Linked DNA regions of Homo sapiens. The protein of the gene in region 2 purifies or fractionates together with the protein of the main gene of each other region. This does not show direct contact. Each region holds a gene or a part of one and is shown on either strand. Other genes may lie near its edges.

What was found. The genes of interacting proteins can lie anywhere in the genome.
Region 1: the proteins of FLT1 (region 2) and LANCL1 purify together in Homo sapiens (affinity purification with mass spectrometry; one large-scale study listed by BioGRID and IntAct). This does not show direct contact.

What each region holds. Positions count from the first base shown.
Region 1 is NC_000002.12:210,452,242-210,457,348, forward strand, and holds part of LANCL1 (glutathione S-transferase LANCL1), read right to left. Parts: intron 3,074-5,107; coding exon 2,866-3,073; intron 1-2,865. UniProt on the Homo sapiens protein: Functions as a glutathione transferase. Catalyzes conjugation of the glutathione (GSH) to artificial substrates 1-chloro-2,4-dinitrobenzene (CDNB) and p-nitrophenyl acetate.
Region 2 is NC_000013.11:28,491,305-28,497,135, reverse strand, and holds the start of FLT1 (vascular endothelial growth factor receptor 1 isoform 1 precursor), read left to right. Parts: upstream 1-2,007; 5' UTR 2,008-2,292; coding exon 2,293-2,356; intron 2,357-5,831. UniProt on the Homo sapiens protein: Tyrosine-protein kinase that acts as a cell-surface receptor for VEGFA, VEGFB and PGF, and plays an essential role in the development of embryonic vasculature, the regulation of angiogenesis, cell survival, cell migration, macrophage function, chemotaxis, and cancer cell invasion.

The DNA.
Region 1 (5,107 bases), on a different chromosome or scaffold from region 2:
AAAAAGATGTCCATTACTGACTCGTCACACTACAAGAAGGGAGGTTATATATTTCTGGACCAGAAAGCCAGAGCGCTTCATCATTCTAAGTACTGGCCCCAAAGCACTATAAATGTTAGGTTAGCCATCTAATTGGGAACAGGCAACACACTTTATTCATGTTGTGGCACTGATGTGTAGAAGTGGGTGGGATGAAAACAGATCTGATATGTATCAGGCAGTAGAACAAATTAATGCAATGTATTGTCCTCCCCTCCACTCCCCAGCCATTTGTAGGACAATTTGAACATGAACATACACACACACACCCTCCTTTTGGGGAGTTATAGATCCCTTTAAGAAAAGCACAAATGCTCCCTCCTTGAATATAATTTGGGGGTTTTATACACTGCCAGAAACCCTAAGATTCTGGCCCAAGGTTAAGAATATGTACTATAGGGAAACACTGATTTCCTTGGATTTCAATTTCTGTAAGGATTAGACTTTTGATGATCTCAAAGGACTGTCTGGTCTCTAAAACTTAAAAATTATGCTTTTGAAAGAACATTACATTAAGAAAATGTAGAAAAAGCAAGCTAGCTAGAACATGATGTTGGCAATGAAGCACAACAAAGGCAGTACACAGAGAATGTGAGCGTGGGATCTCAAAAGGTCTGTAAAATGAGAAAAAAGGTTTAGTAAAAAGTTAAAGGAGGTTTACTAAATAACTTATATTAAATAATTTTGGATTTCTTGAAATTAAGTCAAATTTCTAGATTTTTCCTTTGAAAAGATAAAGCAAACTCCGTAACTTACAAATCATTCCAAGTCATTCTTTTTCTGTTTTGTATAAAATAAAAAATCTGAAAAAAATCAAAGCTATAGCCACAAATAGTGTATTTTCCTATTATATTCACATACTATATTTTTAACCTTAACAAGCCTACTGGCTATAAATACTGTCGAAATGTCAAAATTTAAAAAGGTAAATGACAACAACACCCTTAGTACCAATATACCAAAAACAACAAAAATCTTAGCATACTCTTAGGAGCATTTTAATACACTAATATTGATATTGTACCATTTCCCAAAGAGTGTGTTAGAATAGGCCCTCAAGATTTCATGAAGAAGAGGGTTGTATAGGTGAGTTAACATTGGCAAGTGCTGCTCCCTAGAGTTGGCGTGTTGTCCCCAGGTATACAAGCTACAGAAGAAGCTAAGCAGCCGGTAAAGACACATATTTAATTTTGTTTAATTAGTGCTTTGATACAAATTCCCATCTGTTTGAATCTATGAATCTTGGTCTCATTGAACACATTAACATTTCTCACATAGCAAACTATTAAAATGTGGCTGCATGTATTATGGAAAGGCTGGCATTATATATAGAATATTGGGAGCACTACAATTTATCTGATGGTACTTAACAAGTGATTCACTGAATGAGAGTATCTTGTGGACCTCTAAAGCAGTTGTTGGCTGATGGCTTTAAACATCAGCTATGTAAAAAAAATTAAAAGGTAGTCTCTGTGTTTCAAATTTAGGTGAGTATGGAACAGTTTTTGTATTGGCAAGTCTTATGCAAGTCAGCTACTATGGAAGGAACACACTTTAAACTTTGGGGGAAATCACTGTTTTGTTTCATCTTTCATTTTGGTCGAGCTTGGTGACAGGTTTTATATTAAAAGCTTCTCAGCTCTGGAGTGGAATGTTCAGTTTTTTTCCTCTAGACACACTAAGTAATGTGTTTTTAAAGTTATACTATGTAATGTCTAGCCCCTAAGAAATGTAGCATAGGCATGTATTTAAAAAAAGGTGTTTTGAAGAATACGTCAATTCAGAAAATGATCCAATATAATGATTCCCAAATCATTTTGGGTGGAGCAAGACTCCCACCCCTTCTTTTTGTTACACTTTCCAGTGGAAAAAGTTAGTTACAATAAGAAAATATCACTGCATGGGAAAAAATTGGGAGAGAAGGGAGATATGCATACATACACACACACACACACACACACACACACACACACACACACACGCCTAAACAATAGGGGTATAAATCATTCCTTTTTTGAATACAGCACTATGATATCTTAAAAAGTCCAAAAAGCCTGTTGTTTAAATATACACCAGCAAACAGTATAAGATTAGCCAACGGATCCTAGACAAACTAAATTGGTGATGGTAATGCCATCCTAACAGTAATCTATAAGAAAGAATAGTGGGAATCAAACACCATGGTCAACTCAGGGACAGTCACTGGTTAAAACGTTGCTGGAGTGTTAGCACGCGCAGTGGAGCCTAAGAGCGATGCATGCAGAGTTGCACGGCAGCCAGGGTTCTTAGAACTCCGAAAGAGTGCTTAATAAACTCTGGTAAGGCAACAATTAAAGTCTATTAGTACAAACATTTAATAATTCTTCATAATTCACCAGCTTCTAGTGGACCACCATAATTTATACCAAAATGAAAATCAGGATGTGCATGTCATTGCCTCTAAGAAAGGCCGTTTTGAATCAGTCTGTGGTCCCTTAGAAGGACTCTCCCAGCCCACCTGTAGGAACTGAACTGCATTTCCTTGAATTACAGATCTTGGATAGCACTTTGGATTAGTAATCATATGTTAAGGCTTTCGATCTCATTTACATTATTGAACTGATGTTTAATCTGGAACATGACAGTGTCTTTTATCTTGCACTAAAATAGGGATTATAATCGTTGTTCCTTAACTACAACACAGGAATATGACAATTGATCAAATGACAGCAGTGAGATTTATCTGCTAAGAGAAAAGTAAACTCACTAGAATGTTCTTTTGTTAACACATGCAGAATTAATGCATAATGATGCTAGAAAATAATCCTCATATAGAAACATGATTACCGTGTGATGCAATCTTCTGCCTGCTTCTCATTGTTCATCTTGTGATATAGCACAGCGGCCACTGCCAGGGGGCCTGCATCCCCACAAAGGAAGGTGATGGAGCGCTTGGTTAAGCAGTTCAGACTTTGCTTTACATAGCCATGTGCTAACTGTAGGTAGGCAGGGTCCCCAAATACATCATAAAGATGTAAGTAAAGCACAGCAATACCTGAAAAAAAAAAAAGGAAACAATGTAAAGATGAGGAAAGGCAGTTATTTTATTATTTTTGGCATGGTGTCTACTCAGCAGCGATTTTTGATAACCTGTAGCAAATTTATTAATGATCTGGAAGTTTGGGTGACTTTAATTCTAGGCTCAGCTCTATTAGTAAGCAACTCTACGAACCAGCATAAGCCAACCACTTACTTGTCCTCAGTTTCCTCATTATGACAACTCTATTAAATAATAAGGTCTCTAAGGCTCTGGCCAATAAAGAGACACACAGCCTATTATTAGTCTTTGTTGTACTCTGGTTATTGTGTTAATGTATTCTTCTTGATGTCGAAATGATGTGTCATTAAACTAGGGTTCCAAATAAATGTAATTGATTTACCAATAATTATTTAATAAGAAAGGGTTTGTTGTGAACTAAAGAAATTCAAAGACCAGGGAATGAAAATTTCAATTTCTCTTTACGTAAAAGTTTGTTTTGTGTGTGTGTGTGTTTTTTTTTTTTTTTTTGTGAAAAGGTAGTTAATGTAACCAAATCCCCTGCCCCAGTATCCTTCCAGGCAGGGATTATAAGAAAGTTATTTGATAGCTGAGAAAAAATATTCAACCCCTAGATTTTTTTCTGTCGAGGGCCCACCTACTTTGGTAAATGTAATGTAAAAGCCACCAATGACTTTTGCCTTGGGCTCTACTTGATCAGTTTCTTACCCTACTCTTGAAGCCTGAAATATGTAATAGAGGCATTGTCTGCATGTCCTTATTTCAAATGCCTGTCACAGTGGAAAGAGCCTTCCCTCTGAAGCTAACTGGTCTCAGGGCAGACTCAAAGATGTGGAGTAGGAAGCCTGCCTGCCTGCCTGCAGCATATCCAGAAACCCATTTTTTCCCTTGAAGTACATTTTCCATCTCATTTGCGATTTTTAGAAGACACAGAACCTCTGTTTAAATTTAAATTAATAGAGCCAATCTTCACGGATTTCAATGCAGTAAAAATGCTGTCTGCAAAATTACTTTCCCTGTACTGAGGACAATTTTAAATTTAGATAGTTTTCTCATTTTGCATGGGTAATCTCCAAAGCTTTGTGCTACAGACAATTCAATTTCACATGTATATTAAGGCCAAATTTTCATTTCCTGCCAAAGTTAATAACCTTGACTGCTCTTTCAAAGTGGCTTGGTGTTAGTAATCCCACAAGCTGATGATCAGATGCATCAATGCTTAAGGTTTGTAGACAAGTGTACAAAACCTTGTGTGTAGGTAAGAAAAAAAAAAAAACCCTTTTCACAAATGATTGATGTCAAGAGCTTCTTCTAAAATTAGGTCCTTAATAGGCTTCATCTCCATCCATATCACGCATCTGCAGGTGATCCATTTAAATTGTTAACCTTTCATTTTGCCCTCCTATTCCCATTGCTGCCTGAACTCTCCTAGTTAAGTTATGTAAGCACCAAAGCCAGATAATGACATGATGGAGATCTGAGAAAATAAAAAGTGATTAAACACAAGCCCAGTGATTGTTTTTCTTTCAGATCTTTGTCTCTCATTAGCAACAATTCCTCTTGGCTTAACTATTTAACAAACAAAACCTATTAAGGCTTGCAATTGTAAGATTTGGTGTATTTCTCATGAAAAACAGGTAATCATTTCTCAAGTCTCACAAGAGTACATTTGGATTAAAACTTTCTTTTTGATAGGCAGAGAATTATCTTTCTAGTTTCTGGGATTCCACAATCTCATGTTCCAGTTCTCCCCTACCTCTCATTTGGGCCTCTGGGTCTGTGGATTTTGATAAGCAATCTTCTGCAGATGATAGTTTACTGTGTCTACATTCCCTGTCACAGAACATCCATGGTGGAAAAGGACTTTAAGTGGTGAGTGCTGCTGCCAATTAGAAAAAGTTTCCTGCACATGCTTATTATAAATCAGCCCAGGTCAGGAAAATAAGACAAAATGTATTATGTCACAGACATTTAATACCTCATCAGTATTTTATATAATAGAAAATAATAGAATGTGTCCTAATGACAGAA
Region 2 (5,831 bases):
TTACAGACACAATGTAGATTCATTGCTGGCAGCAGGTTTGGAAAGTGTTGTCTCTTTATGAGTTAAAAATATCAAAATGGCATTTGAAAAAATGTATTAGCAAATTAAACCTTTGTACATGGTACTATGGACCACTTTCCCCCAGAGTCAAATGTGTGTCTCTCCTGAGAAGCCCTCCTTGGGTTTTCCCTGCCAATAAATGTGCCTTTACTTCTCTGAGCTGATGGAGGACTAAACACCCCTCCAGCACTGGAATGCCGGTCCTGCAGCCACTTCAAGTGTCCACCTTCTTATCACAGTCCAAGCCCTTTAGAAGGCAAAGATGATGGCTCTCCATCAGTGTTTTCAGCCCTAACCCAATGCCTGGCCCCTGTTGAATGCTGCAGAAGGACAATGCTGACAGCTTCTCCTTGAAAGAGGGTGTGGGAGTGACAAGCAGCTCTCAGGTGAGACCAACAGACACTGTGGCTCCGCACGTATGTCCCAGGCTGTGTTCTGGGCTGGGGGACCAGCAAGGAGAAGGATCAGCTGTCCGCTTCCAGCTGTTCTGAGGGATGATGCTGTGGGTTTTAGAGGAGGCAGGGGTGCGGGAGGCAGAGAAAGGCGCCAGGAAGAGTGGTGAGGAGAACTGGAAAAACAGAAAGCGCTGGTGAAGCCAGCAGGCAAGCAATGACTCCGGCAGTCTTCCTTGCCTCTGAAGCAGAAGGGATCCAGGGACAGTTAGTGGCTCAGGTCCTGCGGCTCCAGGTGCCCAGACGTGCATTTCCTGTGTGGAGTGGCCGGGGCCTCTCCTTGGTGTGCAGCCCAGAAATGTGGCAACTTTGGGTTACCCAACCTTCCTAGGCGGGGAGGTAGTCCAGTCCTTCAGGAAGAGTCTCTGGCTCCGTTCAAGAGCCATCACAGTCCCTTGTATTACATCCCTCTGACGGGTTCCAATAGGACTATTTTTCAAATCTGCGGTATTTACAGAGACAAGACTGGGCTGCTCCGTGCAGCCAGGACGACTTCAGCCTTTGAGGTAATGGAGACATAATTGAGGAACAACGTGGAATTAGTGTCATAGCAAATGATCTAGGGCCTCAAGTTAATTTCAGCCGGTTGTGGTCAGAGTCACTCATCTTGAGTAGCAAGCTGCCACCAGAAAGATTTCTTTTTCGAGCATTTAGGGAATAAAGTTCAAGTGCCCTGCGCTTCCAAGTTGCAGGAGCAGTTTCACGCCTCAGCTTTTTAAAGGTATCATAATGTTATTCCTTGTTTTGCTTCTAGGAAGCAGAAGACTGAGGAAATGACTTGGGCGGGTGCATCAATGCGGCCGAAAAAGACACGGACACGCTCCCCTGGGACCTGAGCTGGTTCGCAGTCTTCCCAAAGGTGCCAAGCAAGCGTCAGTTCCCCTCAGGCGCTCCAGGTTCAGTGCCTTGTGCCGAGGGTCTCCGGTGCCTTCCTAGACTTCTCGGGACAGTCTGAAGGGGTCAGGAGCGGCGGGACAGCGCGGGAAGAGCAGGCAAGGGGAGACAGCCGGACTGCGCCTCAGTCCTCCGTGCCAAGAACACCGTCGCGGAGGCGCGGCCAGCTTCCCTTGGATCGGACTTTCCGCCCCTAGGGCCAGGCGGCGGAGCTTCAGCCTTGTCCCTTCCCCAGTTTCGGGCGGCCCCCAGAGCTGAGTAAGCCGGGTGGAGGGAGTCTGCAAGGATTTCCTGAGCGCGATGGGCAGGAGGAGGGGCAAGGGCAAGAGGGCGCGGAGCAAAGACCCTGAACCTGCCGGGGCCGCGCTCCCGGGCCCGCGTCGCCAGCACCTCCCCACGCGCGCTCGGCCCCGGGCCACCCGCCCTCGTCGGCCCCCGCCCCTCTCCGTAGCCGCAGGGAAGCGAGCCTGGGAGGAAGAAGAGGGTAGGTGGGGAGGCGGATGAGGGGTGGGGGACCCCTTGACGTCACCAGAAGGAGGTGCCGGGGTAGGAAGTGGGCTGGGGAAAGGTTATAAATCGCCCCCGCCCTCGGCTGCTCTTCATCGAGGTCCGCGGGAGGCTCGGAGCGCGCCAGGCGGACACTCCTCTCGGCTCCTCCCCGGCAGCGGCGGCGGCTCGGAGCGGGCTCCGGGGCTCGGGTGCAGCGGCCAGCGGGCGCCTGGCGGCGAGGATTACCCGGGGAAGTGGTTGTCTCCTGGCTGGAGCCGCGAGACGGGCGCTCAGGGCGCGGGGCCGGCGGCGGCGAACGAGAGGACGGACTCTGGCGGCCGGGTCGTTGGCCGCGGGGAGCGCGGGCACCGGGCGAGCAGGCCGCGTCGCGCTCACCATGGTCAGCTACTGGGACACCGGGGTCCTGCTGTGCGCGCTGCTCAGCTGTCTGCTTCTCACAGGTGAGGCGCGGCTGGGGGCCGGGGCCTGAGGCGGGCTGCGATGGGGCGGCCGGAGGGCAGAGCCTCCGAGGCCAGGGCGGGGTGCACGCGGGGAGACGAGGCTGTAGCCCGGAGAAGCTGGCTACGGCGAGAACCTGGGACACTAGTTGCAGCGGGCACGCTTGGGGCCGCTGCGCCCTTTCTCCGAGGGAGCGCCTCGAGGAGTGGCTGGCCTGGACCCGCGAGCATCAGCGCTCAGACCGGGTCCGCGCTGGGGCTGTCCGTTTGCGACAGGATCGCTGATCCCTTATCCAGCTGTCGGGTTGGGGTCTCACTGCCGAGGCCCTGGGCACTAGGAGCAGCACGCACCGGGACCTGCCTGGCACCCAGAGCCCATTCCCAGAGGACCTGGGGCAGGTACGCAGGGTCCCCCGGAGCCGGGAGCAGAGGCTCCTGAAAGCCTGCCAGGCTGCCCGGGGCTGGGCTGAGGCCGGGACTTTGGTGATATTGGGCACTGGCCGCGACCTCGCGTCACGAGAGTGTAGGAGGGGAGCCGATTTGGAGGGGACTCGTGCCTGCGGGGGAGCAGGAGGATCTCAGGAGAGGGCCAGCGCCGGCATCCCATGACCCGCTTGAGTCCCCAAGCCGGACTGTCCCGGGGAACGCTCGGCGAGCGCCCGCTCCTCCCCGCCGCTCTCGGACCGCGGGGCCCCAGTGCGCTGCGCTCAGCCACCCGGGTGGGGCCTCTGCCGGGAGCAGGCGTGGTGCGCGGTCCAGTCCGTGTCGCGGACATCAGTGACCCTGACCCACAAGGGCAGCCCAGGGCCCAAATACCGTTAACTTACTGACTTACAAGCCTAGCCTTTAAAATCCGAGCGAAGAGAGGGCGGGCGATTTTGACCAAACGATGTGGTTTGAGGAATCGATGAGGTCCGCCCGCCACCTAAGTCAGCCTTCGCTGGGCGTTTGGGAGACGGGCGGTGGAACAGTCAGGGGCCGGGGGTTTTACCAGCAGTTAGACCGCCGCCATTGAGGGGTCAAAGCCCCGAGGAACTTGAGGGTTCGGACTCGCAGTCTCTGCTCAGTGGGGCTGAGTGGCGGAGATTTGTGCCTCGTTCCCCTGGGCGCAGAGAGCCAGATTTCGGAGCGCCTTTCTTTTAAGCATCGTGGAGAAAAGGTAAAATATGAAATAAAATATAGTAATATAAAATAAGTCATTGCAATGATTCCCGGGAAGAAAAGTCAATAGGATGGAGCGTAGTACAACAACAACAACAACAAAAAGCTTGTTAAACCCAAAAAGCAGTAATAATTAAATATTCTTTCTCAGTGGGAAGACTAACTAGACCGTCAGTTTCCAAGTAACAAGTAATAGTTCCAATTAGATTGGAGAAACTACTAAACCCGGAGACAGGGCGAAGTGGTAACTTCTGAGAACTCACTGTAGGTTGGGAAAGGTGCTAACATAACTATATTAAATAAAATGTTGTATTTTCTATTTCACAAATACATTTTTTGTTTTGAAAAGTCACTTGTATTAAAATATAATTGCTTAGAGAATTTAAATACCTCACTCGACTATTATGTAAAGATAAATCTAGCTAAATTACATGAATCTAAAATTACGGAGGGAAAAGTACGTGATTTATTAGATTTTCTGCTTCACATAATTATATCTTTATTTTGAAAACATGCTGACTTTAGTGAAGCATCGTTTTCTTTGTAATTGGAAGCATCTTAGATCAGTGGAAACTTTACAGAAATGTGAGTGGGATCCTCTTGTGATTTTTCTTAGATTATAATTTACTTAAATGGGGCAGCAGTTTTGCAACTCTGAATTTCTTTTTTTTTTTTATTTGCACTTTTTTGGGAAGAAAGGACTAACATTGGCAAGCTGAGAACCTCTTTACCTAACAGTTAACAGAACACTCTGTTAGTTCATGTTAGCTCAGTCGGCATCATGGGTGCTTTTGAAAACTCATAGTTTCTCTGTCTGGTTAACAAGCATCTCACAGTAAAACAATCAGCTACCGCCTACTTTACAAACCGCATCAGGGCTTTCATGCTCAACTGAGAGGCTGCATATCCGGGAAGCAATGTCTAGTAAGAAGCCACGGTTCCCCACTGCAGAGTTCTCTTGCGTCATTATGAACCTGGGTCTGCCTTCCTTCAGGTACTATGTAATCTTTGAATACTTATCAGCTATTAATATTCTGTGTGTGTGCATGCCTGGTGTGCACATGCATTGAGAGGTAAAATAACCAGAGGCTCAGTATTACAAAAAGATAATGCCTTTCCCCTCTAAAGCGCTTATTTACCTCTTCCAGACATTCTGGGAAATAAAAAGATGCCAATAATTCAGATACTTTCAAGTCCTCTCTATTGCTCTTTCTCTATAAAGGATACCAGTCCTCTTTCTCCAGCTCTGAGTCTCATTTCTTACTTTTAAGGTATCACAACCTGGATGAAAGCTACAGACCTTTTTCTTTGCCCTCATTTTTCTTGAGTTCTTGAACAGCTAACATTTACAATTTACTATAACTAAGTGGAAATACTGAAATTGTGAATTTTGTGAAGGAAGTCCATATTAATAATATTAAATCAAAGTGCACATGAAAATACCTATTTCAAATTGAATGTAATAAATCTCTTATAATAAAGTTAATTTTTTGTAACAATTTTTGTTGTTTTCTCCAAGGTTTTATGAAGCTGCACTTTTTTTTGGTCTAAATTGCATATTCGAAATATTAATTATTTAGGAGCTTTGGCAGCCTACAGTTTTCCAACTGAAGCATCATGTTACAAAGGAACTGTAGGTGACTACTTACTCCAGTTCCTCAAATATTGTTGCTTACTATTTTAGCACTTTGTTACATTTTTAAAATTTCCCTGTTGGACATTCTATAATAGGCTATCTGGTTTCTTTTCTAACGATCACCAAGTGGGTACTTTGTTTTCGTATGTAAAATGAAGACGTTAGTATAGGTGGTTGATTTCTAAGGCCCTTTTCTGACTCCAAAATTCAATGAATGATTCCAAGAAATGGCCTGAACACCGTGTCTGTCTTTCTCTTTTCTCTTCCCCACCTTATTTATATTTGTATATAGAGTGGATGAGAAACCATATGATGCTGGGGCTGTTAGGATGAACTGGGTTTCCCCTGCTAATCACATTAAACTTTCTTTTTCTTTAGTAGCATGTACCTAAACAGCCAGTCAATTTGGCCTTGAATAGGCTGTTTTGGAAGAGATGGGCTGGTAGAGGATGCCTGAGCCAGCAGTCATCTTTATCTTGGGCTTTTTTCACTAGCAGAATGTATAACTCTATAAAGTAGATGCTCCCTCAAAACTCTAGTTGCATTAACTCTTCTAAGGATAGCAGTCATTTTAAACCCCTATTTATTTCTTGAATTTTTAAAGCTAACACTTATTTGATTAACAGAATGGCTTTATTCTTTTAAAAAAAGTTCCAGATTTTAACAGGGATACTAAACCCC